3 linked regions of the Homo sapiens genome follow. The protein of the gene in region 1 binds, or shares a complex with, the protein of each later gene. Links are inferred from orthologs where the notes say so. Each region holds a gene or a part of one and is shown in the gene's direction. Other genes may lie near its edges.

Region 1 (11,849 bases):
TTATAAAGGTGAATTTCTTATTTTTCTTTTTTTGAATCAAAAAGTAAAAAGTTTTCTTTGGATATCTCTGTAGTAAGCCATATTAGGATACCTGTCTTTCTCACATTATTGGTATCCTAATAATTCCAATAATACAGTTTGAACACTTGGGACTTGTTTATGATTATTATATAGAACATTTATACAATTTTATTGACTGGGGCATCAAGTACCAATCCTGTTCTTACATGCCAAATGTTTATTAAATTTATTCCAATATTTCGTAACTACATTTTCTCCAACACCTTACAGTGATATTCTCTCCTCCCTCAAAAGAAAAAACAATAATTAAGTAGGTCAGAGTTGTTACTTGTTCCGGAGTGCTACACTCTCTGATACTCTCTGAGTATCCCTGGCAAGGATAGAAAATTTAATAACCAGCAAAGTAAAGATGGCTTATTTTCCTCCTCCCTCCCTCCTTCCTGCTCTCCCTTCCTTTCTTTCTTTATTCCACAGATATATTAAGTATCTTTTATTGTTCCAGGCATTAGGTAGAGAGTGTTCTGTGCCGGGTCATTGCTAAGCCATGAGATAAATCAGGGATTCCAAAGTTGTATCTTAACACCAGTTGAAGAAACTGACATAAATTCTATTTCTCAAGACACTTTCACAAAAAACTTATTTTGGTCTGCAGTTGTGACAGTCTTTTGGATGACTCGGCAACATTTTATAAAATATACATCCAAAAATCTCATGAGGTTAAATGTTTTGTTCCTATTTGTTAGAGGAAGCTTATTTTAACAGAAATAAAAATCGTTTTGTTAATTCAAGCCATTTACTTTGGCTCAAAAGCCTGCAAATGGGTAGATAATAGAAAATTATTACTGACCCATTGCACATCAACATATACAAGAAAATGCAATGAGTTCTCCCTAAAGAATTTGGTCCAGTAATTTGCATCTTTTAAGGGGTACAGTACCTTGCTGTTCATTTTTTCACTAACCAGAATCTTCAATTTCTTAGTTTACGTGGTTTTGGATTTTGGCTTTTCTTATTGTTTTTGTTTTTGTATTTACAGTCCTTTGAGCGAGTGTTGGTAGAAAACAAGCTGCATGGCCTCTCTCCAGCTCTCTCTGAAGCCATCCAGAGCATTTCCAGATGGGAACTGGTGCAAGCTGCTTTGCCTCATGTCCTCCACTGCACTGCAACCCTGCTTTCAAACCGAAACAAGCTAGGTTGGTGCCCCGCATTACTTCTTTATTGCATGTGATTGCCCTTTGTGTTCAACACTCATCATAATAACCTGTACTGAGTAGTTTCTGTTTTCTCAAGCACTGTGCATATATTATCTCATTTAATTATCACAAAATCCTCCTCACACTTATACTCATTATTTTCATTTTACCGATAAAGAAACTGGCTGTCTTGTTTTTAATTTTTTAATTTTACAAGTAATATATGAATATATTCTCCTTTTAACATTAAGATAGGCTGGGTGTGGTGGCTCATGCCTGTAATCCCACCACTTTGGGAGGCCGAGGCAGGCTGATCACCTGAGGTCGGGAGTTCGAGACCAGACTAGCCAACATGGTGAAACCCCGTTTCTACTAAAAATACAAAATTACCTGAGCATGGTGGTGCACACCTGTAATCCCAGCTACTCGAGAGGCTGAGGCAGGAGAATCACTTGAACCTGGGAGGCGGAGGTTACAGTTAGCTGGGATCGCACCACTGCATTCCAGCCTAGGTGACAAAGTGAGACTCCGTCTCAAAAACAAACAAACAAAAACAACACAAAAAAATTAAAATATTAGAGGCAAGCTAAGACCTTCACCTGCCCAAGATGAGTCCTAGCCAAGGTCATCCTTTTTGTTCTCTCAGTTCCTAAAGCAACCACTCTCATGAACTGGGCATATTTGCCTCAGACATTTTCCAGCTTTGTAGTACTGTGTATGAGTATGTGTGCACATGTGCATAAGAACTATTTTTTAGAATATTTTACAGATTGCTTTTTTCATCTGGCAATGTGTCCTACCCATGTACCCCACGTTAGCGTACATACTCTTCTCCATCCCATTTCCTCCCCTTGTTTGAGCCTCTGCTCAAATATCACTCCTATAGAGGGACCTTTCTAGGTCACATTGTCTAAAATAGGATTGCTTTTATCTTCAGAGTCTATATTTTTAACCACTACGCTGCCTATTTGGAAATATATTTGGGTACCTAACTGAAGAAAAGTGATTCAGCAGTTTCTGCCCCCATGGCAGCATATCATTCTGCAGAGATTGCGGCCAGTAGGGAAGTCCAAAAAGCAAGAATGAGCCCTGCTAGCAGTGGTTGTAAGAAGTATAGAGAAAGGAGGGATATTCTTCCCAGACCCATTGTTGACATCTATTGCCCTGGTCACAGAGTTTTTCTTAACCTGCCTGTGTAATTGTCCCATGCAGGCCACCAGGATAAATTGGGTGTTGCTGAGACAAAGCTCCTTCACACTCTACACTGGATGCTTCTGGAGGCCCCCCAGGACTGCAACAATGAGCGGTTTGGGGGTACAGACCGAGGCTCCAGCTGGGGTGGAAGCAGCAGTGCTTTCATCCACCAGGTTGAAAACCAGGGTTCTCCAGGGCAGCCTTGCCAAAGCAGCTCTAATGACGAAGAAGAGAACAACCGAAGAAAGATCTTCCAGAACTCCATGGCTACTGTGGAGCTCTTCGTGTTTCTGTTTGCTCCCCTGGTACACAGGATCAAGGTAAGCAGAAACCCAGTGTTAGAGCTGGAGTGGGTGGAGATGTGGTGAGGGTAGACTTCAAATGATATTTCCATATTTGGTTGGGCATGTCTTTGTATGACCTTACAGCAAGTCAAGGCATGGAGAACTTTATTTCTGTGTTAAACTACTGAACATTGCTTCAAAAACACAAATTTCCACAAAGCCTTTACCTACTTAAAAATCTTCAGTGGTTCTCCCTCTGCCTCATGATAATGCCCAACATATTAAGCATAGAATAAAAGGTCAAGCATGATGTAGGGTTTAAATTGCTTTCTTGATTTATAGACTGTTGGTCCCTACTGGCCACCTCATGATCCAGCATTTGAAACCATGACAGCCATTCCCTGAATATGCCCTTGCTGATTGCTCTATTCTCCTTTCCCCGCTCTATTCCTGTCATAGTCCTCAAAATGCAACTTTAATATCATATTTAACATGAAGCTATTCCTTAGACCTCACCATCTAGACTTCATTCCTACCCCCTTTGCATTTTTATAGCATCTTGTAACTACCTCTCTTATAATACAGGGTCTAAGTTTTAGCCAGGCGCGGTGGCTCACACCTGTAATCCCAGAACTTTGGGAGGCAGAGGCAGGTGAATCACTTGAGGTCAGGAGTTCCAGGCCAGCCTGGCCAACATGGCAAAACTCCATCTCTAATGAAAATACAAAAATTAGCCAGGCGTAGTGCACATCTGCAGTCCCAGCTACTCGGGAGGCTGAGGCAGGAGAATCTCTTGAACCTGGGAGGCACAGGCTGCAGTCAACCTAGATCGTGCCACTGTACTCCAGCCTGGGTGACAAAGCGAGACTCTGTCTTAAAATGAAAAAAAAATAAGTTTTAACTTTTTATGTTCTATGGACTTTTAGACAGTAGGGTATAGCCTAAGAATTGCTTTTTAAAATATTTTTAAATGCTTAAAATACAAAACATAGGATTACATGGAAACCAGTTATCTCAAAATACAATCATATCCACTTGGAGGAGACAATATAATTTGAAATCACTGTGCCATCACTTTTTAGCTGTGTGATTTTGTTGATATTACTTAACCCCTCAGTTGCTCTAACACGGGGTGAATATATATGTAAGACACACACTGCAGTTCCAATGCATGAAAAGAAATCAAGAACTATTCGTTACTTCTGTGAATGAATAAATTAACAAATTTCACTTAAGTGCTAAGATAAGAATTGACATGTTCATCTGCTCTTTAATAGAATATTATAACCCAGTGAATGGATCAAGTTAGCAGTGGTTCAAGTTAGTAATATATTTATGAAGGTGGTTGTGAACATTAACAGTCACCATGAAGGGAACAGACTAGTGAGTATTTTCATTCATTTTTAGTTTCCTAAAAAATTCACTTTCCATTAACTCTGTCCATTGCTAGGAGAAATAGATTTGAAACCACCTATAAATTCCCAAAATGCAACACATACACTGGCCACATTGCCCATCAAACATACTAAACTCTTTAGGTGTCAAGTCAAATTAACTTGCCATTTTAAAATCTCTAGCTTCCCATTTTAAAGTATTTTATACAGGTGATACTTAGTAGGAAGCACTGCTTTAATAGGGACTGTCCACCTGGCCTGTGAGCTCTGCAGGACCTACCCCTGTGCACCTCCTGGGCCTCATCTCCCTCTATCTCACTGGCCTTTCTCTCATTCACTAACCATCTTCAGGCTTGTGGGATTCTCACCCTCAAACTTGACAAGTGCATTTTTGTGTTCAGATCCTTACACTGTTTTTTTCAACTTGAAACACTGACCCTACCTTCTACACTCAGATTTTCACATAGCCATGTACTTGTCATTGGTTTACTCAGAACTCAAATGGCAACACTTCAGAAAGTACTTCCCTGGCTACTCTCGAGCAACTAGCATGCTATCCTACATTTTTTTCCTTGTTAGCACTTACAAGTACCTGGAATTATTTATGCATTTGTCTGCATGTTTGTTGCCCTTCACCCTCACTGAACAGAGGTCCTTGAGTGAAGGGAGTCTGCCTGTCCTGGTGACAGCTGTATCTCTAGTGTCTCAAATAGTGTCTGTCATATATGAGACTCTCAATAAATATTTAATGACTGACACACTGAGTAGACTTGTCATTATTGGAAGCTGATCCAAGTGCTAAAAACAGCATTTTTAGAAATGAAGCCTTTAAAATGGAGAGGACAGGAAACAAGTCTTCTTTAAAAGTAGCCCAAAAAAGATGTTTATATGTTGACAAATATCACCTGGAAAAATGTGGGAATATAGGAGTGCCCAGGGTGGATGTAATTTTATTTTTAAGACATAGCTGTGAGTCTAAGTTTTGGAAACAGATAAGCCTGTATTTGAATCCAGTGCCTGCTGTGCTCTACTGTAAGACATTGAGCAAATAATTTATAAGCCTCCATTTTCTCAAGTATAAATTGGACCTAAGAATAAATTTATAGGGCATTGTGAAGATTAAACAAGTTATAGTATTCAACTTGATACAAAGAAATTCATTAACAAATGTTAGTTGTCTTTAGTGTTGGTATTTTATTGCTGCTGGTATTATGTATTATTAGTAGAAAAGGAGCAAGATCTCCCTTCAGGAGTGACTACTCAAATAATTCGAAAAGCTGACTTAAGACCCTCATGTTTAACTTATGGCTTGGGAATGGAGCATTTATAAAGGAGTAAGACAATTCATACAAAATACTACACAGTGATTGATATAAATAAACAATTATAGTTAGTGGTAATAATATATTTATCATTTTTATTATATTATCATTATAGTTTAATCATTTTGTCATTGCTATGGGGAAAGCATTGTTCTTGAAGCTGTAGAGAATAAAAAGCATTCAGTCAGTAATTTTGGCCACAAGGGCTTTTCTGTTTGAGAGATGTCTGGTTTTTTCAAGTTGTTGGGGAATGTACAATCTCTAGATCAGGATTTCTCAGCCTTGGCACTGTTGGCATTTGGGGCCAGATAATTCTTTGTTATGGGACACTGTCCTATGCATTGTAGGATATTTAGTACAATCTCTGGCCTCCATCCATTAGATGCCAGTAACACCCCATTGCTCCTGAGTTGTGCCAACCACAGATGACTCCAGATGTTGCCAAATGTTCACAGGTGGGTGTGTGGGAGGGAATTGGTCCTGATTGAGAGCCACCGCCTTACATCTTTCATTTGCCTGCCGTTATCAGGTTCTGTTGGAGCCTATGGTCTTTCCCTACCCATGTAAACTTCCCCTCACCAGCACCATTAACATCCTTTAATCCCTATGCTTCTTTGCAGTTGCCTTTCATGACTCCAACTCCAGATCAAGACCAAAATTCACATTTTCTATCCCTACCCAGAAATCTGCATGCTGCTGGGGAAACCACACAACCATTCAGACTAATGTTTCTGCAACGCTGTAGTCTCTAAACCCAGTGTGCTGCGCTGCCCAGCTTGTCAGTCCTTTCCTTGATTTTTCCCCTCAGGTTCCCACTCAGCACTTAGTGTTGCAGGATGGGGCTTGTATAAGACATGGTGCTATAGGAGGCATGGGAAGCCAACATGTAATCAAAGCATGAACCCATGCCTCCATATCCTCACCTCCCATTTACTTACTCTTCAATCTCTTATTCTTGCTTCTATTTGCCTCTATTATGTGACAGAAAATTTTCACTGCCATTTCTAATTTTTACAACTACCCACAGGGATGTGTGTATCTTTGTCTCCATTTTACCAAGAGGGAAATTGAGATCCAGAGAGATAATAGTAAAGACTGTGAGTAACCAAGATGGAATTCAAACCCAATCCTATCTGATTTTCTACAAAACTACACTGTTTTTTAGGTTTCTGTACCAGAGTTGTTTTTCTTTTCCACTCAGGTCATGAACAACTTCTGAGTTGTTGAATCTAATCTCTATTTGCAGCCCTCATTTCATTAAACCTCAGCTGCATTTAAAACTATCATCATGCCCTCTTCTTGAAAGGTTCAGTTCTCCTGATGACACCACACCCTTCTGGTTCTTCTTGCATCTCTGACTCTGTCTGTTCTATCTCTATTGAGAGCTCATCTTTGTTGTCTGCCGCTTTAACATTGGGGGTCCCCAGAGATGCATTCTTGACACTTTGTTCTTCTCACTCTCCTTTCTGCTAGGAAGACTTCCTCTGACTTCATTTACCATGTGTATCCTGCAGGCTGAGGTCACCTAATTATATATTTCAAATCCAGGCTCCTATCTTTGCCTCTAGAACAAATTGTCAAATGACTTTTCCAAATAAATAATCCATGGGAAATTCAAACTTCACCTGTAATGAGCCCCGTCCCTAGATTCTATATTTTAGATAATGGATGTATTCACAAAAACTCAAACTACCTTTCACTATCCCTCATCCTTACTTGCACATTCCACTAATCACAGAGTCCCACTCATTTTTTCTCCTAAATATTGCCCAAATTTATTACATATTTTTCATCCCTACTTACTACCTTAACCCAAGCTTGTATCATATCTTACATGGACCCTTTACTTGAGCCACTTTCTAACTAGATTCAGTCTCCTGGCTTGTCTCATAAAATCTAACCTCAACACCAAGGTGACCTATCAAAAATGTAGACAATATCACCAACATACTTAAAATAATTTGTTAATTTCTCGTCATACAGAGAGTACAACTCCAGCTTCTTAGTCTGGTAAACTGGGCCCTCTATGACCTGTCTGACTACTTCTCCTGTCTGTGAACTCCAGATGTTTGAAGTCTCTCCAAGAACATAACATACTTTTTTTCAGATCTTTTCTCATGTTGTTCTTGCTGACCGGAATGCCCTCATACCTCACTTCTCTTTCTAGTAAACTCCTACTTATCCTTTAGGACTTCATTTGAGATCCATCTTTCCCTCTTTCTCTATTTCCATAATATTCTAGGTACAGCTTTATTGTTATACTTTGTTTATTATCATCCCTTTATGTGGCTTTCTCCCCTACTAGATTCTAAATGGTCTGTTTGTAGGAATTATCATTGTACCCGTGGTAGCTAACATAGTATCTGTGTTTAATAGGTATTTAATTAATATTAAGTGAATAAATTAGTTCACTAATTTGTAAATAAATCTAATATAAATGACTCATCCTTTTGTAACACAGTGTATTATTCAATGCATATTTTATATTTTTTAATTTATAATTAGCTCAAATAGTTTATATAAAATTCAGTCTGAAAATCCTGTTTAATATATTATTAATTTTAGACCAAATTTAATTTTATCAGTGAAAAATGACGAATATTTGTTAAACTAAGGCATCTTCTTTAAATATGGTATCAACATTGTCATGATTTTGCCACATTCACTTATTTTTTTTTTTTCAACAAATTCTTATCAAGTGCCTGCTGTATGCTAGCTACTGTTCAATGTGCTGGAGAAACAGCAAGAAATAAAACAAAAAGCAAGCCCTTCAGGGGATTTTAACCAATCCATATGTGTAAAGTAAACAACTTTAAAATGGAACTTAAAATAATAGTTGTTTCTTTAAATCTCTGTAAGCTACTAGTAAATACATTCAGAATTGCTTTATGACATCCTGGAAACAGATTCTCAGTGAAAGCAAGAAAAGCATCTGAAATGTGGGGATATTGCCTCTACGTGTACTTACACTTCTGGTTTTCTCAGGATCCTTCTAGACTACCTGCTTTACAACTGTTTGAATGATAAAGAGTGTCCTCTCCAGTTATTGAGTTTCTGCTTGTGTATGTATACATAGCATTGTGTGTTCCATTAAAAGAAACTCTGGAAGAGACATTAGAGGCCCAGAGTTTATACATTTATCCAAGTTAGGAAGACTTACAAAGGAAGATACCAACACAAGAGAAGGCCACAGGTGCTACAGGCATTCAGGTCTGAAGAGTGATTGGATTTATTTGGAGAAGGTAAAACATGTTCAATTAATGAACATATTAGTTTGGTATTGTACTGATGCTCCAGGAAATGCACAGAAGAAGGAGATCTCAACTTGTATTCAAGAAATATACAATCTACTTGGAGATGTATTTAGTAAAACAAAATGATGACCATGACAGTCAGTGAGTGCTGTGTCATGCTAATAGATCAGATGTTAAAGCCCAGGATTTCAGTATAAGAGAGATCACTCCCTGCTGCAGTTTCCACAGGAGTTTTACTTGTGTTAAGATTTCTCATGAGAAACATGGAAAAGGACTGAACTCAGAAACTAATCAATAAAACCAGGTCAATTGAGGTTTGGCTTCCTGTATTTGTAGAGACAAATCTGATAAGATTTGCTTAATGTTAATTTCCTGCTTCTACATACAATACCATGCAGACCTCCTCGTGTCCATTTCAAGGGAATTTGGGTTACTCTTCTCTTAACTCCACAGCTGTCTGTCTAAGTGCTTACTCGGTATCTCTAGCTTAATGTTCAACAGATATCTCAAACTTAACATGTCTAAAACTAGGCTTCTGAAATCCCCAAACCTGCTCCTCCTTCATCTTACCTATCTTTCTTAATCGTGAAGCCAAAAATCCTTGACAACTTTTTCTCTCACACTCCACTTCCAGACTATTAGCAATTTCTGTAAGCTGTGTCTTCAAAATGCATTGAGAATCTACCACTTCTCATTTTGCCCTCTATTAGTACCCCCATCTAATCATCTTTCACCTATATAACAATAGCTTCCAAAATAGTCTATTCTTTCACTGTTGCCCTTTCTCAAACTATTCTCAACAGCCTGAGTGAACCTATTAAAATATATATCCAGTCATGTCACTCTGCTACTTGAAACCTTCAGTGGCTTCTCATCTTAATAATTGCTAAAGTCCTTATCAAGACCTATCAGGCAGTATATTATTTGACACTCAATGACTTCTCCAATTTTATTTTTTTTTCTGCTTTTCTCACATTCACTTGACTCTGGGCACACAGTCTCTTGGCTGTTTCTGAACACACTAGGCACACTTAGGGCCTTTGTGTTTGCTGATCCTCTTTCATGGAATACTTTTCCTGGAGATAGCTACATGACAGCTCCTTCATTTTGTTCAGAACTTTACTCAAAAGTCACTTTCTCAATAAGGCTTCACCTGATCCTCTGGTCTAAAATGACAACACTTTGTCTGACACAGCCCTTCACTTCCTCTCTGCACTACGAACAGAGATTTTTGTATGCCTTGTTCACTGTTGTATTTAAAACCTAGAATAGTACCGGGTATATGGTAGGTGCTCTATAAATGTTTACAGAATAAATGCAGAATGAATTTAGCCAAATGCTTTATGTGCTTTTCTAATACTTCCACAGGGAATTCTAAAGACTTTCCCATTGTGGGAACCATGTGGCTCTGTTGCCAAGTGGTGTCAGAATCCCAGTCTAGCCTTTAGGTTTCTTTTCACTAGGTACAGAGTTGCTTTTGTTTTTCTATTTTTCCAGTTGCTTCTGAGTTCTTTTCCTTCCATCCCAATGGTTTTCAACCTCAGCTATGTGTGAGAGTCATCAGGGGGATCTTTAGAAAATCTCTCAGGATTCTAATTTAATGGGTCTGGGTAGGAGAGGTAAGTGATACCTGGGCCTCTTAGATTTAAAAGCTCCCCTGGTGATTATAATATGCAAGCTGGGGTTGCAAATCACTGCTCTAAGTGAGTTCCTGGGTCTCAGATGTATTCGTTAATCTGTGATCACATTCTCTGCTTCTATCTTTACATTGTTTTGAGAGACTGAAGTGTTTAAGATATAATCTCAGAATGTCATGTATTTGTACTTATACAATATGATAGCAGAGGATATGCTCTTGAAAGATACTTTAAATCATAGATAAACTGAGTGAGCATGGGTTGTAAAGTCAGCCCTATTCAGCAAGTATTTATTGAGTATCTGTTGTGTACCCAGTTCCTAATGCTATGTTAAACATTGTGATGATGCTCGGGGCTGAGAGGGAAGGAGGATGCTTGATTTATCCTTGCCCTCAAGAAATTAAAGGTTGTTAAGAAGACAACATTACAAAATAATACACTATGAAGGGTCAAATTATATGTGCCTGATTCCATAAAATGTAAGAAAAAAGATGGACTGGACAATAGAATGTCAAAATAGCCAGTATCTGAGTATTTTGCCTTATGAGGGAGAATAAGGACAACTAAAAAATTAAGAGGAATGATAATAATAACCAAAGTGAAGAGATCTGCCAAGGCTCCTGAAATAAACAAGTTTCAATCACTGCAAACACAAAACAATAGTTTGTGTATCCCATGCTTTGCCCAAAGCTATGTTTTGATTGGTCATTAATTTTGGATAAAGCAGACAGCTGGGATTTTCATAGTAATTGCAGTGATAACTTTGGGTCATTGGTTTACTCTAGAAACATTCATCTGACTAATGAGAGAAGGTTTGGCAGATAAATTCACTCTGAAAATAACCTTGTGAGTGATGTTAATCCTTGCATTGATTGGTCCCTTTAAGCAGCTGTTACATGTCAGTTATTGGACATATATCTTCTCCTCCCCCCTAGGAATCTGACCTCACCTTCCGTCTGGCCAGTGGGCTTGTTATATGGCAGCCCATGTGGGAACACAGACAGCCCGGAGTCTCTGGCTTTACCGCACTGGTGAAGCCCATCAGGAACATCATTACAGGTTTGTAACTTGGACACTCAGTAGGACAGTATTAGCAGATTCCCTCACACACAGTAGTTAGAGTGATGGGATAATTTGCCCCTAAGAAGTCAAAAAGAAGCAAATATCTACATGTAGTTATTTAAGTGTCCTGATATAGGGCTTACTCACATGAGGAGAAACTACTCTGAATCAAGAGCATGGACTTTGGGCAATTCATTTAGACTTCCTGTGCCTCAGCTTCCTCATCTGTAAACTGGGAATTTAAATATCATATTAATACTACTTACAAGATTGTTATGAGGAATGGAGCTAATATATGTAAAACTGCTTAGAAGAATGTCTGGCACATAGTAAGTGGCAGCTGCGATTATTATTATTATTATGTTATCATCATCATCATGGTAAATGGAGCAGGGGCTCCTTAACAAAATCATCTTAGTGTTGTATTGTTATCAAAGCATTTCTCTTCAGGAATTATCTAATGAAATAGTCCCACTGTTCAACTGTAG
Region 2 (12,226 bases), on another chromosome or scaffold:
ACTAGCAAACCAAATTTAACAACACATCTTAAACAAAGATTATCCTTCATGTAGGAGATAGCTTAAAAAAAAAAAAAGAAAACAAGAACATTTATCATGGCCAAATGTGATTTATCCCAGGGATGCAATGTTAGTTCAACATACACACAAATCAATCATGTGAGACATCATATCAACAGAATGAGGGATAAAAACCATATGATCATTTCAATTCATGCTGAAAAAGCATTTGATAAAATTCAACACCTCTTCATGATAAAAACTCTTATAAAACTGGGTATAGAAGTGTGAACCCAAAAGTATCTGAGACAGGTCTTAATCAATTTAGGAAGTTTATTTTGCCAAGGTTAAGAACACACCCATGACACACCCTCAGGAGGTCCTGATGATATGGGCCCAAGGTAGTTATGGTATGGCCTGCTTTTATACCTTTTAGGGAGACATAATACATCAGTAAACACTTGTAAGATTTACATTGGTTTGGTCTGGAAAGGTGGGATAGCTTGAAGCACAGGCTACCAGGTTGTAGGAAGATTTAAAAATTTTCTGATTGGCAATTGATTGAAAGAGTTGTTATTATCTAAAGACCGGGAATCAATAGAAAGGAATATCTTGTTTACAATGATAAGAGGTTGTGGAGACCAAAGCTTATCATGCAGATGAAGCCTCCAGGTAGCTGGCTTCAGAGATAATAGATTATAAGTGTTTCTTATCAGACTTAAGGTCTGTGTTGATGTGAATGCTGGTTGGCCTTTCCTGAATTCCAAAAGGAAGGAGGGCATAATGAGGCATGTCTGACCCCTCCATTCCCATCACGTTCTGAACCAGTTTTTCAGGTTAACTTTGAAATGCCCTTGGCCAAAAGGAGGGGTTCATTCAGATGGTTGGGGGGGCCTTAGAATTGTATTTTTAGTTTACAGAAGGAACATACCTCGATATAAACAATGTTATATTAAAAACATGAATGGATAAGTAAATTCAGTAAAGTTGCTGGATATAAAATCAACATACAAAAATCAGTAGTGTTTCTATATGCCAACAGCAAACAATCTTAAAAAGAAATCAAGGCCAGGCTTGGTGGCTTATGCCTGTAATCCCAGCACTTTGGGAGGCCGAGACAGGTGGATCATGAGGTCAGGAGACTGAGACCATCCTGGCTAACACGGTGAAACCCTGTCTCTACTAAAAAAAATACAAAAAATTAGCCAGGTGTGATGGTGGGCACCTGTAGTCCCAGCTACTCAGGAGGTTGAGGCAGGAGAATGGCGTGCACCTGGGAGGTGGAGCTTGCAGTGAGTTGAGATCGCACCACTGCACTCCAGCCTGGGGGACAGAGCGAGACTCTGTCTCAAAAAAAAAAAAAAAAAAAAAAAAAAAAAGAAAAGAAGTCAAGAAAGTAATGCCATTTACAATAGTTACAATATAAGATAAAATACCTACAAATTAACTTAACCAAAGAAGTGAAAGATCTCTACACTGAAACTATAAAACATTGATGTAAGAAATTGAAGAAGGAAATATATTCCATGTTCATGTACTGGAAGAATTAATATTGTTAAAATGACCATACCACCTAAAGCAATCTATAGATTCAATTCAAGCCCTATCAAAATACCAATGACATTCTTCACAAAAATAGAAAAAAGCAATTATAAAATTTATGTGGAACCACAAAAGACCCAGAATAACCAAAGCTATCTTAAGCAAAAGGAACAAAACTGGAAAAAATCACATTACCTGACTTCAACTTACACTACAGAGCTATAGTAACCAAAATGGCATGGTACTGGCATAAAAACAGACACATAGACCAATGGAACAGAACAGAGAACCTGGAGATAAATCCATACATCTACAGTGAATTCATTTTTGACAAAACTACCAAGAACATATATTCGGGAAAGAACAGTCTCTTCAATAAATGGTGCTTGGAAAACTGGATGTCCATATGTGAAAGAATGAAACTAGACTCCTATTTCTCACCATATACAAAAATCAAATCAAAATGGATTAAAGACTTAAATTTAAGACTTCCAACAATGAAACTACTAAAAGAAAACTTTGGGGAAAATTTCTAGGACACTTAACTGGCAAAGATTTCCTGAGTAATACTCCACAGGCACAGGCAACTGAAGCAAAAATGGACAAATGGGATCACATCAAGTTAAAAGGCTTCTGCACAGCAAAAGAAACAATCAACATAGTGAAGGGCTAACCCACAGAATGGGAGAAAATATTTCAAACTACCTATTTGACAAGGGATTAATAACGAGAATATATAAGGAGTTCAAACAACTCTGTAGGAAAAAAATCTAATAATCCAATTCAAAAGTGGGCAAAAGATTTAAATAGACATTTCTCAAAAAATGTCATACAAATGGCAAACGGGCATATGAAAAGTTGCTCTACATCATTGATCATTAGATAAATGCAAATCAAAACTACAATGAGATATCATCTCACCCCAGTTAAAATGGCTTTTATTCAAAAGTCAGGCAAAAACAAATGCTGGAGAGGATGTGGAGAAAAGGGAACCCTCATACACTCTTGGTGGAAATGTAAATTAGTATAACCACTATGGAGGACAGTTGGAGGTTCCTCAAAAACCTAAAAATAGAGCTTAAGATCCAGCAATCCTCCTTCTAGGTATATACCCAAAGTAATGGAAAGCATTACATTGAAGAGAGATCTGCACTCTCATGTTTATTGCAGCACTGTTCACAATAGCCAGACTTGAAAGCAACCTAAGTGTCTATAAACAGATAAACATGTAAAGAAAATGTGGTACATATACACAAGAGAGTACTATTCAGCCATAAAAAAGAATGAGATCCTGCCATTTGCAATGACATGGATGGAACTAGAAGTCATTATGCTAAGTGAAATAGCCAGGCACAGAAAGAACAACTTCACATGTTCTCATTTATTTGTGGCACCTAAAAATTAAAACAATTGAACTCATAGAGATAGAGAGTAGAAGGATGGTTAACAGAGTCAGGGAAGAATAGTGGGGGTGGAGGGGCAATGGGGGAGGGTTAATGGGTACAAAAAATAGTTAGAAATAATGAATAAGATCTAGTATTTGCTAGCTCAGTAGAGCGACTGTAGTCAAACATAATTTAATTGCACATTTAAAAATAACAAGGAATATAATTGGATTGCGTATAACACAAAAGAGAAATGCTTGAGGTGATGAATACACCATTTACCCTGATGTGCGTATTACACATTGCATGCCTATATCAAAACATCTCATCCATAAATATATACACTTACTATGTATCTTCAAAAATTAAAAATTGAAACTAAAAAAATTCACATGGCAGGTGTATTAGTCCATTTTCATGCTGCTATAAAGGACTGCCTGAGACTGGGTAATTTATAAAGGAAAGAGGTTTAATTGACTCACAGCTCCACATGGCTGGGGAGGCCTCAGGAAACTTAACAATCATGGTGGAAGGGGAAGCAAACACATCCTTCATCACATGGTGACAGGAAGGAGAAGTGCTGAGCAAAAGGGGGAAAAGCCCCTTATAAAACCATCAGATCTTGTGAGAACTCACTCACTATCACAAGAACAGCAGCATGGGAGTAACCGCCCCCATGACTGAATTACCTCCCACTGGATCCATACCATGACACATGGGGATTTTGGGAATTACAATTCAAGATTAGATTTGGGTGGGGATGCAGTAGGCAAAATGGTCAAATATAGCCAAGATAAATTTGAAGAACAAGCACTGGTGGGAGGACTTGCCTTATAAAGACTTATTATAAAGCTATCATTATTAAAACAGTATGGTTAAACAGGCAAGTACAAACATACCTGTGGTCCAGAATACAAATCTGGCAAATAGCCTCATATATACATAAAAAAGTTGATTTATGATCAAGTTGGCATGGAATTAGAACCTTTTGGGGAAGAGTTTAATAAATGGGTAAGATGCTACTTATTCATAGGGGAAGAAGCAGACCCCACTTCACACATAAACATAAACATAAATTTAAGTTGAAACAAACACTTAAATGTGAAAAGTAAAACTTTAAAACTTTTAGAATGAAATATAAGAATCTGTTTACAACCTTGGGCATAGGAAAGCACAAACTATAGAGAAAAAGATTGGTAGGCTGGTTAAACTTGGCTATGTTTACATTTTAAAACTCTTCAGTAAAAGACTCCATAAACAAAGTGAAAAACAAGCTGTAGACTGGGAGAAAATCTGCATTTTCATCTGGTATCATTTTCCTTCAGCCTGAAGAACTTCCATTACTATTTCCTATAGTGCAAGTCTGCTGGTGGCAAATTCTCTCAGTTCTCTTCCATCTGAAAATATTTTTATTTTATTTTCATTATGAAGGACTTTTTTGTGTGTGCCAAATATGCCACTGCATTAACAGTTTTCTTTTTCTTTTTAGTATGGTAAAGATGTTAGTTTATTATCTTCTGATATCCATTGTTTCTGATTGGAAGTCAGTGTTAATTTGCATTGATGTTCCCTGTATGTAATGTGTGTCATTGTATATCATTCTCTGGTTGGTTCCAAGGTTTTCCCTTGTCTTTGTTTTTCAGCATTTTGAATCTGATGTGCTTAAGGCTTGACTTTCATGGTATTTTTCCTGCTTGGGGGTTTGTACTTCTTTTTATATCTGTAAATTTTTTTTGTCACCAAATTTTGGAAAATTTTCAGCCATTATTTCCTTAAATATTTGTTCTTAAATATTTTAAAATAATATATTAATATATTATTAGTATTTTTATCCTCTTCTTCTGTGAGTATAATTATATGTTATAACTTTTGTTATTGTCTCACAGGCCCCAGGCTATGTTCCTTTTCCTCTAATTATTTTTTTCGATCTGTTTTTCAGATTGGATAATTTACAGTGATTTATCTTTAAGCTTACTTCATATTTCATCTATTTTCTACACCCTGCCATTAATATCATCTAGTGAATTTTTTATTTCACATATTGTACTTTTGAGTTCTAAAATTTCCAATGGTTTTTTAAAAATATAGTCTCAATTTCTCTACTGACATCTTTACAATCATTATAAGCATTTTTTTTTCACTGCACTGAGCAGACTTACATGATTTAAAATCTTTGTTAATGATAACATCTGGATCATCTTGGGTTCATTTTCTATTGTCTTTTTTCTTCACCATTGGTCAAGTGGGTCACATTTCCTTGTTTCTTTGTGTGTCATGTAAATTTGGATTGTATCCTGGACATTGTGATTTTAGTGTTGTGGAGACTCTGTATTCTGTTATTTTCCTCTGAAGAGTGTTGACTTTTTTAGCAGGTAACTAACTTAATGGGATATAAACTATAAACTATCAGTTTATTGAATATCAGTTTAGTTCTTGAATCCCTAGTTGGGTTTTTGTTGTTTGCATGCAGGCTTTCACATGTGTGGTTCAGAGATCAGCTAGATATTTGGGCAGAGGTAAATAGGTGATATCTCCTTTACTGTGGCTCTCTCTTTCTCACAGTTCTCCCTTCACTTTCTAGCAGCTATAATTGCTTTTAACTAGGTATTTTGGCATTTTGGGTCAATCAAGCTGTGAGTATGCTATTGGAGTCTTTAATCACTAATTGTATGGGGTGTTCCTCACACATAGTGTTTAATAAACATAATTAAACCAAAATGGAATGTTGAGCATAAAGTGTTAAGTTTTAAAAAGATATGTATAGTGTGGTATTAATTATAGAAAATTAAAAAACATGTAAAATAATATATGTTGCTTATGGAAATAGACATATATGGTGTGTATGTAATTACCCTATCTAAAATTTTATCTCATTCAAAATTTCAAACCCTTCAATACAAACTTTCTCCTTCCCTTTGTGTAATATTTTTCTTTTTAGTACTTGTCAGCACTGAATATATTATGTTTTACTTACTTATTTTTTGTCTTTCCACTAGAATATTAGTTTTAAGAAGCAGATTTTTTTTTTTGTCTTCTCTGTTTGCTACATTATAACAAGTTCCTAGAGCAGTGTTTGACATACATAGGCACTCAATAAGTAGTTGCTGAACAAATAAATAAATAATATAAAATATAAGGACATAACCACAAATTTAGAATAATTTTTTATGGGGGCTTCTAATGTCTCTAAAATGTTTTTTTCTGAAAAGTAAAACAATGCAACATGACAAAATATTAAGATTTGATGAGACTGGGTAGTGGTAACATTAGTGTTCATGATTTTTAAAATATTTCTATGTTTGAATTACTTCATTAAACAATAGAATGGGCAAAAAGTTTGGAGAAGACTTTGAAGAGCATTATGTTATAGAAGTCAAGGGAAGAGGGAATTTCAAAAAGAAATAGGGAGAAATTTCAAATGCTGGCATTAGTCACCAAGAGATAAAGCAATTATAATTTACTATTAGGAAATTATTAGTGACTATTGAAGTAACCTGTTTCAGCCACAATTTGATAGCAGGTAGGGTAGTGAGGAAATGGAGAAATGGAGGCCACTTATTCAGTAAGATGATAGGCACAGCTTTTTGAGGATGAAAAATTTATGCATGTTTGCAAGCAGGATGGGAAAATCCATTGAAAAGATGAGACTTAAAATGCTGGGAAAAAGAAGATAATTAAAATAGCAAATTCTAGAATAAGTAGAAATGTTTATAATTAGAGGCATAGGTTTGGAAAAAAAGGCATTGCATCTGGCAATGAGAAGAGGCACTACCTCTGCAATAGAAGAAAACTAAGCAGGAAGGATTGAGATAGGTGGAGACAGAAGGAAAGGTGAGGGAGTTCATTGAAGTAGTAAGGCCATATGTCGGAATGGTGAAACTGAGTAATGGATATGGCCCAGGTTAGTGAGTTAATGGGCATGTCAGAAGGCTCAAGCTGTGAGTGCCTAGGTTGATGATTAGAGTCTCAATTATATGGGTGCTATCAGGCTTTGGAGGCTCCGAAGCATCAGAACTAACCTGAATGGATTGGGTGCATTTGAGGAGTTTCAGCAGTAATGCTAATAGCAGCCATCACTCATATGTGTCATTGTTCTAGATTCTCATATATATACTTATTTATTCCTGACAACCTTTAATGTGACTATGATATGACCATTTTTCAGGTAAGGCAGTCGAGGCATGGAGAAGTTAAGTAACTTGCACCAGGTTACACAGATCATGAGAGGCAAAGCTGGAATTCAAACCCAGGCTGTCTAACTCCTCAGTCCATGACTTAACACCATTATACTCTCCCTTAACTCAGTAACGGGAGGGTTAATTGATGACAAATGAAAGATTGTTAAGCAGATAAAGGGATAATAGGTTTCCAACACATACTTTGTCCTTTGTTTCTGTATTATCCAAGACACCTCTTTTTCATGTGTGTTAATTTCCAATTACTGTTTTCTTTATCAAAGCCTCAGGCTTCCAAGAATTTTCTGAATAACCCATTGAGCTTTCTTTTAGTCATACAAAGTGTTTGTCATCTTCTCAGGAATGTTCATTATATTCATATTTTCTTTAGAATGATTCCAATTTCTTTTTACTCAGAACGAACTCTTTGGCATCATGCTTCACATAATCATTTATCTTTTACTAATAAATGGAACTTCTCTTTGGGATGTGGTTTTGGGAATGAACAATGACATGGAATGATAGCTGATTAGCCAGAGCAACCTGCCAATCAGCAGGATGTCAGAGTCCAATCACATATGCAACCCAAAGAGCCAATTCACTAACCCTTTATGAACATTTTTGCAAATACCATGAAACTTGAGTGCTGTGTGTGCATCATTATGGGCAGTTTCCCTGTTATTTGTAGATTTTTTTATTTGCTACTCAGAAGCATCTTTCCTTGATGTTTGTTCATAATATTTTTCTTAATTGTCCAAGATTTCACCTGAATAGTTTGATATATTACACAGAATTTAAAATTCTTTCCCTAAATAGGATCTTTTATTCTCTGAGGTGGAAAACATTGATTTATCAGCATTAAAAGTCATTGTCAACACTTACCGTTTTGTTCCTGTAACTTTTACTAAATTAACCTGCTATGACCATGCCCCTCAGCTTTAACAAATTAAACTATTTGAATGAAGAATGGACATAATGGTTGGGGATTGTGCCGTACTTTTAGTTTACAAGGACTTGCGCATCCATTCGATCTGCCCAGTAACTCTTCAGGTGACAGGGCAAGGTTTTAATGTTCCCATTTTACAGATAAAGAACCGGAGGTGTAGGGAGATTAGAAGATGGTCCTTGAGTGAGTAAGTGGTAAAAGTGGGTCTTGAATCTGGTTCTTCCCGACTCCAAGTGTCTCTCCATTCTGTAGTGGATTCTTTGGATATCTTCCTATTAATATGCACGATGCCCTCGTCTATTGCCTTCCTTTCCCGCTGCCTTCGGTTTTCCAGTCGAGGGGCTTCCTAATGTGTCCCTGTCCAGCTGGGATGGCTGCAAGGGAGCACACCTGGGGTCTTCCTGTCTTCAGTCTTTCATCTTCCTTTTCTGTGGCCCTTCCAGCTTCACCATCCGTGGACATCTCCTCCTTCCTTCAGCCCCAACTTCTAAAGTCTTGTCACAGCCCCCTGGCAGTGGGACCTCCCATCCCCAATCATCAGCAGGAGAGCCCATCGCAGAGGGGAGGCGAGGGCAGGGACCGCAGCGCACAGGGAAGCCATGCTGAGGGTTCCTCCTGCATTTTCTTCCTCGCGGTCCTCAGGAACATCCTCGCGCCCTCCGGCCCCGGCGCTCCAGCCCGCCCCGGATCCGCCTCCCTCTCCTTCCTCCCCGAGGTTGAGACGAAGCGTGGGACGCACCTGGGTCCCTCTCTGGTCACCCTGCTGAGGCTCCGGGGGCTGCTCCGGGAGCAGGATTTACAGGCCCGGAGAACGCCAATGGGAGATCCAAATGGTCGGGGACTCCGGCGCTTTAAGAGGCTTTTCTCTGGGAAACACCCGTCCCCTCCGTGCGCCTTATGAATGGAAATACTCCTCCCCCGGTCGAGCCCATTTTCCCATTTCACCAGGAGCCGCAGCCTGCTCTCTCCTTTCGGTCTCCCCGCCCACATCAACGCGGGCAGCTCCAGGAGGGGACGGACAGGAAGCCTTTGGCCGCCTATTAAATCCCACCCATTTCTCCGGGGGCGATTTCCTAACCTTCCGGGACCGAATTCTGCAATTTGATGTGCGTTTTGTCCGAATGGTAGCGACACGGGCCTAAGGGAGGGGGAAAGCGAGGGGGTGGGGGGTGGGGGGTATGCACTCTTTTCCTCGCAACATCGCTGGCGGAGCGAGGGAGCTCACACGACACAGATTTTGGGGCAAAGCCTTTCCAACTGGACAGCACCATGTCCACCAAAGCGGAGCAGTGTAAGTAGCAGCCGGCCCGGCATTCCGGCCCGGCCTCGGCTGGGAGCTATTGCAGCTGCGGCGTTTGCGGCTGCTGGGAGACCTTGGCATTGTGCTGGTGCGGGGGTGGGGGCTGAGGTTGGGGCGGGTGGGGGGTGGCGGAGAGAGAAGGTGGGGGAGGGTGGACGTTAATGGCAGCGCGGCGCTGTCCCCGGTGCTGAAAAATAATACGGTCTTCCTCGGGCTCCAGCGGGGGTTTCTCAAGACTCAGAGACCCTGCGAAATGAAATTAAAATGGGGTCATTCTCGGGAAAAAGAGGCCTCGTATCTTTCAGATAAACATTTCAGTATCTCTTGTTGGAGTGGGGGAAGGGGGGTAGCGGCAAATCAGGGGCGGGGAACTGTCAGTTGCAACCAAAGCCTGCCTGGCCTTCTGAGCATGCCCAGTTCTTGGTGCTGGAGCCATAGGGGAGTTTGAGTCTGCAGTTTCCACTTCGGGTGGAAGAGGCAAGAAGGGAGAGAAGGGGGAGGGAGCAGGGAGCCAGGCAAGAGGAAAATTAACTCACTAATGCCAACACCAATGTCAAAACCAACCACAACCATGCGGTGCTTACAAGAAAGTGAAAGGAGCTCTGGGAAAATGACCTAATTGATCTAATTATTGTTCCAAAGAGCAGGCTTCCTTTGTAGGGCAGCCCATAGCACCGGAGGATTTTGGTTGTCCCAGTAATGACTGACTGTGTGCGTGGTTGGAAGCAACCTGCTAACTCCTTGTGGATGGAGTAAGTTTCTAATATGGTTCCCATAGTCTGTCTTATTGCAGTGCGCACTAGTAGGCCTTCGGTGTGTGCTTGGTAGGTTGATCAATGTGAAGCCTTTTTCCGAGTACACTTGAGGGCTTGAGGGATTCAGGAGCTTAAACTTCAGATTGTAAATAAAAGACGTTTTTATTAAGCAGTAAGTTTGAATTTTTAACAATATACCAGAACTTATTCACCTAGATTGACTCCTTTCTTCCAAAGCAGTACACGTTATATGGATAATGCTGTCACTACTTAAAAGTCTTTGTAATTCTTCTTTGGAATGGCTACTAAAGCCGGTTTTTGAGACACACAAAACAGTAGTCTCATTATTTGAGGGCAATATCTTATATATGATAAAATGCAGTATGTCATTTATTCACCAGATAAATTAAATAAACTGAAGGCTTATAGAATTCTCAGATTGATGGTTCATTAGAAATTGTGCATGCCCACCTACCACCCAGTGCTTTTACTTCTTTATGTTTTTTTGGAATCCGGAAGATCTGAGTTTCAATCTTAGTTTTGCTACTGTTTGACCTTGGGCAAGATAATTGACCTCTCTGAACTTTATTTCCTCATCTGTAAACCTGGGCTAATCATGCTGATGGGGTTGTTGTGGGGAATGAGAGAATACATATAAAAGGTTTAGTAATGAGCCTAGCACATAGAATGTACTCAATAAATGATGGCTATGATAATGACAAGCATTGCCCACTTTTAAATAGTCCATCTCCTCTAAATAGTTAGGAAGCTCTCTTGTGATTTTTTTTGCATGTTTCTGAAAGTTAAATCTACATTCAAAATTAAGTTTTGCTTTTACAGAGGTTTTTGAAAAAAATTGGGTGCATTCTGTTTTGAGGAATGGTAACATAGTTTGAGTCCATGTAGAACCTCCCACTTGAGAATATCACATCCTGATATTATAATAAAGCCAAGTGGTTTTATTATAGTATGGTTTTTAAAGGAAAAAACACCACCTGTCATTTGATTGTGTAGTTACATATTACGTAAGTAATTTCAGGCTAAAGCCAGTGAGTATTACTGTCCTCTTCCTGTGTTTTCTCTTCCTTGTTACATTTTGAAATGGACTGGATGCTTTGTCTTGTCTCTTTCCTGGGCAATGAATAAAATCTATCTATGGACTTGATTCTGTAGAGCAATTAGTGGACTTAAGTAGCTATTTTAGACGTGTTAGTGAAACAGATTTTTTTCATCTGTAGAGGATGAAAAGGACACCATATCTGGAGCTAGAACATGTGGACTTGAGCTTTGTATGTCCTTCTGATTAATTGTGAGACACGGGGCAATTAACTTAATAGTTTTGTGCCTCAGAGTTTCCATCTTTAAAGTAAGGAATTGTAGTAGGAGCTATCTTTGCTTTAGTCTTAAGGGTTTGGAGGGCAAAGGAGGTAAATGGGAGTAGGCTGTGGAAAGGTTAAGGATGCTATGGATGTTTTTAGATATCTGTATTTAGAATGAAGGTAATTAAGGAATCTCTTTTCTTTTTCTGTTAATATGCACTAACATGAGTGGATTGACATTTTCGTGTATGTTATGTACCTGAAAATAAAGCAAAAACACAATAGGCTGCATAGTTGATGTTCATGAAGGACAAATACTTTTTATAAAAAGAACGCAGATTGGCAGCATTTTATCCTTGGACTTGGTAGAAGTTTAGCTACGTGTAAGGAGCAAGAGAAGGAAAGGTCAGGGAATTTTTTTTTTTCTTCTACTGGGTGTGAAGACTACTGGATAAGGAGAGAATGGGAGAGCTCGTTTCTCCTCTGCATTCAGGATGCACATTACCACTTTCCTAAGGACTGAGGAGGGAGAATTAGGCTTAATATAATGTCAAAATATTATTTCTATTACTCTTCTTCTTGGAGCTTCTTGATGTTGATAAAGGTTTCACTGGTTTGACAAGTAGACATAGTTTTGTTGGACCAGCAAGAGAAAGTACTTGCATTTCAACCCAAACCAGCTTACTCGATTTACCTTTGAAATGTAATGTATCACAGAGATATGAAAAATGATTTCTGTTTTATGTAGTGGCATTTTCTTTTGTGAGATAAGTAATAGTGATGAAGGAGAAGCTAGTGGCCGGG
Region 3 (8,082 bases), on another chromosome or scaffold:
AATAAACAGTCCCATTATTTTCCATATTTTACTGATTCAGTAAGAGAATTTTCTTCTATGAGCTTCTTCTCTATAGGGTTTTGGAAAGCCAGGATAATCCCATTAAGAGCACTCAGGAATGGAGGGAGAGCAATGCTCCCCACAGCCCAGTGTCCTTGTACATGTTTTTTTCTATAGATAACTAAGTTCATGCTAAAGCAGGAGCTTTATAATGCTCTTTAACTGTGCCCCAACTTCAGCCCAATTGAAAGGAGAAGATGTGTAGCATATGTGTTCCACAAAGCAGATGACAGCACAGCTTACATTTTGAGGCTGACGATGTTCAGTGGGTCTTCACTGGGACTACCACCAAGGAAAGTATCCCCTTTCATATCCAGGAACTTATTTTTCAGAGATCAGAGAAGATCTAGGTTCCTCCTGATTCAAACACAGCAGAGAATGACAGCATCAAGACAACGTAGATGGTGGTGCCAGGTCATAAATTACAAGCTGAGTCGGTTCAATTTTATCCTGTAGGCAATTAGGAGCTAGCAAAGATTTCTGAGCAGTATGTGACTTTTGGAATCTGTGCTTTAGGAAGTTGACTTGGCAGCAAAGGAGGGAATTGTCTATGACAGAGCCTGGAGGCAGGTTACAAGCTGGAGGAAGTTACCGTGGTGTGAGCACAAGGCAACAAAGGCATGGACAGAGCTGGGGGCCAGATACTGCAGGGACAGATAGGAGAGGTGACCTGGGGAGAATGCACAGTCCTTGGTATTCATTTAAATGGACAAAAGAAATGATGCTGTCAAAAGTACTTCCATTGGGCCAGGCGCAGTGGCTCACCCCTGTAATCCCAGCACTTTGGGAGGCCGAGGCAGGTGGATCATTTGAGGCCTGGAGTTCAAGACCAGCCTGGTCAACATGGTGAAACCCTGTCTCTACTAAAAATACAAAAATTAGCTGACCGGTAGTGGTGTGCACCTGTAATCCCAGCTGCTTGGGAGGCTGAGGCAGGAGAATCACTTGAGCCTGGGAAGCAGAGGTTGTGGTGAACCAAGATTGTGCCGCTGCACTCCTGTCTGGGTGAGAGAGTGAGAACCTGTCTCCCAAAAAAAAAAAAAAAAAAAAAAAAAAAAAAGTACTTCCACTGGTCCATGCCTAGGTGGTCCCCACCAAAAACGGTGATCGTGAAATAGACATGCTCTTGGGGTCAGGCTGAGTTTGAGGAGGCAGAGGAGAAGAAAAATAGTATTTTGAGGGGGCAGCAACAATGTCACAGGTGTCATGCTATGCACTTTCCTAAGTCATCTCATGTAACCTGTTTTAATCCTGACAATAGTCTAATTAGGACATTTTCATTGTCTTCATCTTACAATGGAGGAAACTTGGGTTCAGAGACGTGAAGTTGCCCATAGCTACATATCCACAGGTTGCAGAGGTGGGTCCCAACACCATGACTGTGAGGCCCCAGAACCACACCTTTCCTCCCATACCCTCACTGCATCCCCCCTCGCCTTTACTGTGGGTCACACTCTCCTTCCTTTTTGTTTTTTTTATTGCATATGCTAATGAATGCACAGGTTTCTGTGACACTTAATAGTTCCCGAATTGGAATTTTTTTAGTGATTTTCTAGTTTTTTTAATTATTTCAAAATGAAAGGGGTGAGCAGCACGTTTTTTTCCCAAATGACATCATTAGTTGTCCATGAGCACAATTAAAAAAAAAATCTATCGTGAACATAAAGAATCAAGTCCTGAAAAGGATGTTTACTTAGCATCTGTGGCTAGGACACGTTAGCCAAAAGTATCACTGATGGGAATATCATGGGTTTTTAGGAGTGATTACAATAGGGTGAAGCAATACCAAGTGGCTCATAGGACTCATTAATTCCACAGCCCCAAAACCAATAAGCCATTCAGTGTCCTCAGTCAACTTACGGTTTGGAGGAAGGACAACCATGAAATCTGTCGTGTGCAAAATGAACCCCATGACTGACGCGGCTTCCTGCGGTTCTGAAGTTAAGAAGTGGTGGACCCGGCAGCTGACTGTGGAGAGCGACGAAAGTGGGGATGACCTTCTGGATATTTAGGTGGATGTCAATGTAGATGAATTTCTAGTGGTGGAAACCGTTTTCTAATAATGTCCTTGATTGTCCAGTGAGCAATCTGTAATTGATCTATAACTGAATTCCAGCTTGTCACAAGATGTTTATAAATTGATTTTCATCCTGCCACAGAAAGGCATAAGCTGCATGTATGATGGGTTACTATCAATCATTGCTCAAAAAAATTTTTGTATAATGACAGTACTGATAATATTAGAAATGATACCGCAAGCAAATGTATATCACTTAAAAATGTCATATATTCTGTCTGCGTAAACTAAGGTATATATTCATATGTGCTCTAATGCAGTATTATCACCGCCCCGCAAAAGAGTGCTAAGCCCAAAGTGGCTGATATTTAGGGTACAGGGGTTATAGCTTTAGTTCACATCTTTCCCATTTCCACTAGAAATATTTCTCTTGAGAGAATTTATTATTTATGATTGATCTGAAAAGGTCAGCACTGAACTTATGCTAAAATGATAGTAGTTTTACAAACTACAGATTCTGAATTTTAAAAAGTATCTTCTTTTTCTCGTGTTATATTTTTAAATATACACAAGACATTTGGTGACCAGAACAAGTTGATTTCTGTCCTCAGTTATGTTAATGAAACTGTTGCCTCCTTCTAAGAAAATTGTGTGTGCAAGCACCAGGCAAAGAAATGGACTCAGGATGCTTAGCGGTTTAAAACAAACCTGTAGATAAATCACTTGAGTGACATAGTTGCGCAAAGATGTTAAGTTTCTTAAGAAACCTTTTAATAACTGAGTTTAGCAAAAAGAATAAAACTATATAGCTCAATTTATTTAAAAAAATCTTTGCATGTGTGATGTTATCATTGGCTTCATTTCTTACCCAAGGTATGTCTGTTTTGCCATAAATCAGCAGAGTCATTTCATTCTGGGTGATCCTAACACACCATTGCTACGTTAGATTTGAAATGACATCTCTGTTAAAAGAATCTTCTATGGAAATAATGGTGCCCTGCAAAATCTTCCTTTGAACTCACAGGTTAGGGATCACACAACTTACTTAATCGTTTTTTGTTTTTGTTTTTTTTCCTTATATGTCAATGGCCCATGTCCTCCGGGAAAATTAGAAAAGCAAAATGATTACAAAGTGCTGTTAGATTTCTTGTGCTGGGCCAGCCAAGTAGAAGTGGACTTGACTTGGACCTTTAACTATTTTATTACAGATTGGACATTTGCTGTTCAGATGTTTTTTAACAGAGGGATTATCTCAGAATCCTGTGACCTCCAGGTTGTTTTATAATCTATTTTTCTCTATTTAACATTCCTCAGATAGATAGGCAAATAGGACATTCCTTCTGTGTCACAGAAGTATCGTGGTAGTGGCAGTCTACAGTTTATATGATTCATTGTAACTATGAGATAAAGAACAACCAGTCATGTGGCCAAAAGGATTAGATTTGATTTGATGTTCACTTGGAGTTTACTTTTTGTACATACAAGATAAAATAAATATTGGATTTGTAAAATAATTTACTCTGAGTTGACCATTTTTAAACCCTTTTCTTGGTGGGGCAGGCACTCGGTAGCAGCACATTGCAAACCTGGATTGAATATTCAGTCCATAATTAGTTGGCAAAAGCTGTGTCCCTGATACTCATTTCAACTCAATTCTCTGAGCCAGAATGTTCCTTTCACACTTGTGCTGATAAGGCTGAGTGAATACCCTGTGCCCTCTAAGCCTACAATGAACAGAAAAGGCACTTACAGGTCCAGGGCATGGGTCTGTACTAGTGCTGCATAAAAACAAGATGTTTTTGGCTCATTACACTTGAGTAATACAGCTTCATTCTCACGAAACTGCTGAGCCCTTTCTAAAACGTCTGGAATTGATGTTCAGCAGAACATCATTGTTGTTCATTCTGCAGTGAAGCCAGGGGCAGAATACCAATGTATTTAAAGCCATAGCACCCTATATTTTCAATGAAGCGAAACAGTCACACACTTCCTGTAGGACTCCTCTCTACGATTTTCCTGAAACAGGTAGAGCATATGCAAGCCAGAGAAATTAAGCACCACCCCCATTTAGATTTTACCCCTAGATATGTAAACATATGAAAAATCCCATTACACAGATGGGAAAACTTGGGTCACAGTGTTCCCTGGTCCTTAGGGAAGCCAGACACTGATACTAATCCTGTCATCACGCCACCCACTGCCTTTAATTAGAGGGTGCTGTCAGTTCCAAAGGCACCAGAAAGCATATGGGGTGGAATACTTACTTGACTCAGAGCCCCTGAGAGAGCAGGCCACACATGTGTGACCTGTATGGCACTTCAAGGAGACTCAAAGGGAACAAGGATGGACAGAATGGAAGGGCCAATGCTATTCACTCTATTTTTTTTTTTTTTTTTTTTTTTTTTTTGAGACGGAGTCTTGCTCTGTCACCCAGGCTGGAGTGCAGTGGCACGATCTCGGCTCACTGCAAGCTCCACCTCCCGGGTTCACACCATTCTCCTGCCTCAGCCTCCCAATTAGCTGGGACTACAGGTGCCCGCCACCATGCCCAGCTAATTTTTTTGTATTTTTAGTAGAGACGGGGTTTCACCATGTTAGCCAGGATGGTCTCGATCTCCTGACCTCGTGATCCACCCGCCTCGGCCTCCCAAAGTGCTGGGATTACAGGCGTGAGCCACCGTGCCCGGCCCACTCTATTCTTAATGGTACTTCCAGACCAACATACATCAGCAGTGTCTGGCTGGCTGTGCCTTGGCCAAGCTGAATGAGATAAGGGTACACAGAAGAAAAACCAGTGTTATAAAGCCTTACAGGAAAGCAGCTTTAAGCCAGTGGAATGATGTGTTTGCCTGTTTCCTTGTAGGAAGTGGCATTCTATACATGGGTGGTTTTCAGTATATCAGTAAGCAGTGGAACTGTTTCTAAGGCCTTCAACAGATCCCAAAATTTTAACCAGCCAAAAGCCAGGCAGCCCTCGTTGAAGTTGAGGTGAAGATGAAAACGGCACTCATGTGGTCTCTTCTCACCCACTATTATGGGTTGAAGTGTGACCCCCAGAAGGATAGGTTGAAGTCCTAACCCTTAGTACCTGTGAATATGACCTTATTAGGAAATAGGGTCTTCGCAGATATAATTACTTATGAGGAGGTCATACTAGAGGAGGGTAATCCCTTACTCCAACATACCTGGTATCCTCTGAAGACACAGGCATGTGGGGAGGATGGCCATGAGACGGTGAAGGCAGAGGCATCGGAGCTATGCTGCCCAGAGCCAAGGGACACCTGGGCTACCAGAAGCTGCAAGAGGCAAGGAAGGCGCCTCCCAGAGGCTTCTAAGGGAGAATGGCCCCCTGTCAACACCTTGATTCTGGACTTCTAGCCAGAAGAACTGTGAGAACATACATTTCTGTTGTTTTAAGCTGCCCAGTTTGTCTGCTTTTTTATCATTTTATCATTTTAGTTTTTTAGTTTAGTCTCTGTCTTCTACTAACTCCCTTTCCAATTCTACTTTAGGACTCTCTAACATTGCACCTCCTTCTTCCTCTATTTCTTATTCATCCCACATAGCCACAGGTACACCACAGGCTTGATCTTGTCCACCCCAGATACCCCCAGCCCACAAGATCTCCTTTCACACCTCTAGAAATACATTTGTATGCACTTCTGACCTCTGCCTTGAGTAGTTCTTCTATGATGCTTCCCAAGCTCTTGTTTCTATCTCCCAGGGAACTAGCAACCCAAAAAGCTAACAGCTTTCTCATGTGCACTTCCCCACCTCCCTTTTCTTTTTATCTCAGTGTTTTTGTACATGTTCATTCATCCCCTCCCCATTCTTTTCTGTCTTATAAAGAACCTCGCTTCTTCTCCAAGTCTTACTTCTCCACCTGAGCCACAGATCTCTTTATTTCCATCAAAGCTTTCTCAGCATCTTCTATATACTGTGCTGTGCCTTGTGAAGAAGCCAGAGCCGAGCATACCAACATGATCTTTTGCTTGAACTGTAGTAGGAGAGACAAGACAGATGTGCGGGTCCCCATGATATAAGGTAATTGTTAAATCTGCCATAGAAAGGTGGAGTGGTGATCAGAGGAGGCTTTTGGGGTGGTGATGCCATGTGAATTAAGCATTAAAGAAGGAATACTTGGATTTAAATTGTCATAGATGGGGAAGTAGCAGACAGAATGATGCCTGGAATAACAAAAGGAAAATTATCAAGGAGAGCGTCAGTTGACTCTATTCAATGAATTCCCAAGTCTTCTGAATAGGTGTGCAAAGGCAAGACTGGAGACTTGGTCAAGGGCACAAAGAACCTTTAATGCCCACATTTCATGTGGACAGTGATCAGTAGAAAAGGGGAGTCCATGGAGGTGGAGAGGGAGGGAGATTATGGTAATAATGCAAGACCAGGCTTTAGGAGGAGCACGCCGGGAGCAATGTGCAAAATGGAATTGAGGAGGGAGAGACAGATGCAGGGTGAATCTTTACAATACCCCAGCTTTCCAAGAAAATTGTGGTTCTAGTTCTCCAACCTCAAAGTTGAACTTCTGTAGCAGCATGGGACATGGAAGGAGGGTGGAGATGTGACAGGGACTTACCAGACAAAAGGGGCTGCAGGACCTCACCACACTGGGCTCATTCATCTTGCACCAATGACTTGCTCTTCCAAACAACACTGCCCTTTGTTAATCTTTTCTTGAACCAGGACCCACAGAAATACACTGACCATTTTCTGGACCTAATTCCAGAATACGCTTTCTCTCCTAGCTTTCTCCCACAGGCCTTATAATTATAAATTTTATTTAACTTACCTTTTTTGTTTGATTCTCATTTCCCTGGACCACTTGTTAATCTTTTACATTATAATTGCTTGGGGGTACTACTCCTGGATCTTGCAAGCTGAATGGAATGTACAAGTTGGGAGTTTACTAGGTAGAGTTTTGCAGTTGATGGGAGAGGGATGGCCCCTCCAGACTCACCTGCTCTTAACAGCTATCCCCCTATGGAACACCCCTTCTCTCTTTGACTTTAGGGTTGCATTTTGAGATGTGGGCATCAAACTGCTCAGATTTTATTGCGGGGATGGGATGAAGAAGAAGAATAGAGGTGCTGGAAGAAGAAAACTAAGGCAAAAAGAAACAAAAGTTCCCTAGAAAGACACACATTCTCCCTTTATCTACTGACCACAATGGTCTGGAATGAGGACTTATCATAAATAATGACAATTAATTTTTCCTGGATAGAATTATGGTCCATCACCATTGACACCTCTTCACTCCCTATCTCTGACCTAGCTGGTTCCAGGTCTCACCATATATTTTCCATATCATCTAAGCACCTCAATAGTCCCCAGACTTCTCTCCAACCATGCTCAAGGTCATGGCTTCCTATTAAAAAAAATTCTGTAGGCAGAAAAGTGCTTTCAGTCTCTCTCTTCTCTCCAACGTGAACCATTCTATCTGCCCTCCTTCCTCCTTGGCTTCAAACACAGATGCTCTCTCTCTTCCAACCCTTTCCAACAGACCTTTCATCTGTGCCAACTCTTGTTTCTGACACGCCACCTTCTTATTGCACCCCCTACATTCCTGAACAGAAGTCACATCCAGCCTGAACATGCTGCACACTTCCTGATTCTCAGGACATTCTTCTTCCATCAGGACAGAGCTCAGCAACGTCCAATGCAGATTCAGTACAAAAGTTACACCAGAGAGATCTCCTTTCCTGTGATGATCCTCTGAGAATTCAATTCACAGGGGGAAAAAAAACAAAGTAGCTTTCCAAAAGACAGGTTATTCTCTAATTAGGAAGAACTGTCTGAACTCTGCCTATAGTAATTTATCAATGGAAAGTCTAAATAACACAAGACACACTGTAATTGCCTCAGATCGACTATTGTCCGATGAATGAATCATCAGGTAGTTCACTTACTTACTCATCCATTCAAGATTGGGGCAGTCACGCTTCTTGCTCTGTGAGTCTACAGATGGATGCTCTGATCTCATGGTGTTT

The links.
Region 2: the proteins of UNC80 (region 1) and UNC79 are in contact, whole or in part, in a cryo-EM structure (PDB 7W7G), measured with the Mus musculus proteins. The link is inferred for Homo sapiens from one-to-one orthologs. Residues at the interface, in NP_780719.2 of Mus musculus: Gln23, Thr24, Trp27, Ser31, Leu34, Arg35, Pro36, Ala80, Pro83, His84, His87, Ser94, Asn95, Asn180, Ala183, Leu187, Phe190, Leu191, Arg337, Leu340, Gln341, Pro342, His343, Arg1317, Asp1320, Glu1321, Asp1324, His1545, Val1546, Asp1547; in XP_030102533.1 of Mus musculus: Thr120, Tyr123, Ser127, Ala130, Thr131, Leu168, Ser169, Ser172, Met175, Ile176, Gln179, Tyr180, Tyr207, Tyr211, Gly212, Pro213, Ser214, Val390, Cys391, Glu394, Glu402, Phe405, Arg472, Cys541, Asp917, Phe920, Ser965, Glu966, Phe967, Ser968.
Region 3: the proteins of UNC80 (region 1) and NALCN are in contact, whole or in part, in a cryo-EM structure (PDB 7SX3), measured with the Homo sapiens proteins. Residues at the interface, in NP_115893.1 of Homo sapiens: Lys1979, Asn2004, Glu2005, Cys2006, Asp2007, Leu2128, Arg2129, Leu2130, Pro2131, Pro2134, Arg2135, Ile2138, Asp2139, Phe2142, Phe2145, Ser2146, Glu2179, Asp2184, Glu2185, Met2187, Leu2188, Asn2191, Asn2194, Ile2198, Leu2199, Glu2202, Ser2226, Leu2227, Ser2228, Gln2231; in NP_001337678.1 of Homo sapiens: Asn639, Met643, Val644, Ile646, Lys648, Leu649, Pro650, Phe653, Val655, Pro656, Lys657, Ile658, Arg659, Glu660, Phe662, Met663, Lys664, Gln665, Phe666, Ile667, Arg669, Val711, Ser713, Arg715, Ala716, Arg717, Leu719, Lys722, Glu723, Ala725.

What each region holds. Positions count from the first base shown.
Region 1 is NC_000002.12:209,774,832-209,786,680, forward strand, and holds part of UNC80 (protein unc-80 homolog), read left to right. Parts: intron 1-1,057; coding exon 1,058-1,214; intron 1,215-2,426; coding exon 2,427-2,728; intron 2,729-11,234; coding exon 11,235-11,358; intron 11,359-11,849. UniProt on the Homo sapiens protein: Auxiliary subunit of the NALCN sodium channel complex, a voltage-gated ion channel responsible for the resting Na(+) permeability that controls neuronal excitability.
Region 2 is NC_000014.9:93,421,713-93,433,938, forward strand, and holds the start of UNC79 (protein unc-79 homolog), read left to right. Parts: upstream 1-9,226; 5' UTR 9,227-9,317; coding exon 9,318-9,339; intron 9,340-12,226. UniProt on the Homo sapiens protein: Auxiliary subunit of the NALCN sodium channel complex, a voltage-gated ion channel responsible for the resting Na(+) permeability that controls neuronal excitability.
Region 3 is NC_000013.11:101,049,285-101,057,366, reverse strand, and holds the end of NALCN (sodium leak channel NALCN), read left to right. Parts: exon of another isoform or gene 1-417; intron 418-1,878; coding exon 1,879-2,072; 3' UTR 2,073-3,591; downstream 3,592-8,082. UniProt on the Homo sapiens protein: Voltage-gated ion channel responsible for the resting Na(+) permeability that controls neuronal excitability. NALCN channel functions as a multi-protein complex, which consists at least of NALCN, NALF1, UNC79 and UNC80.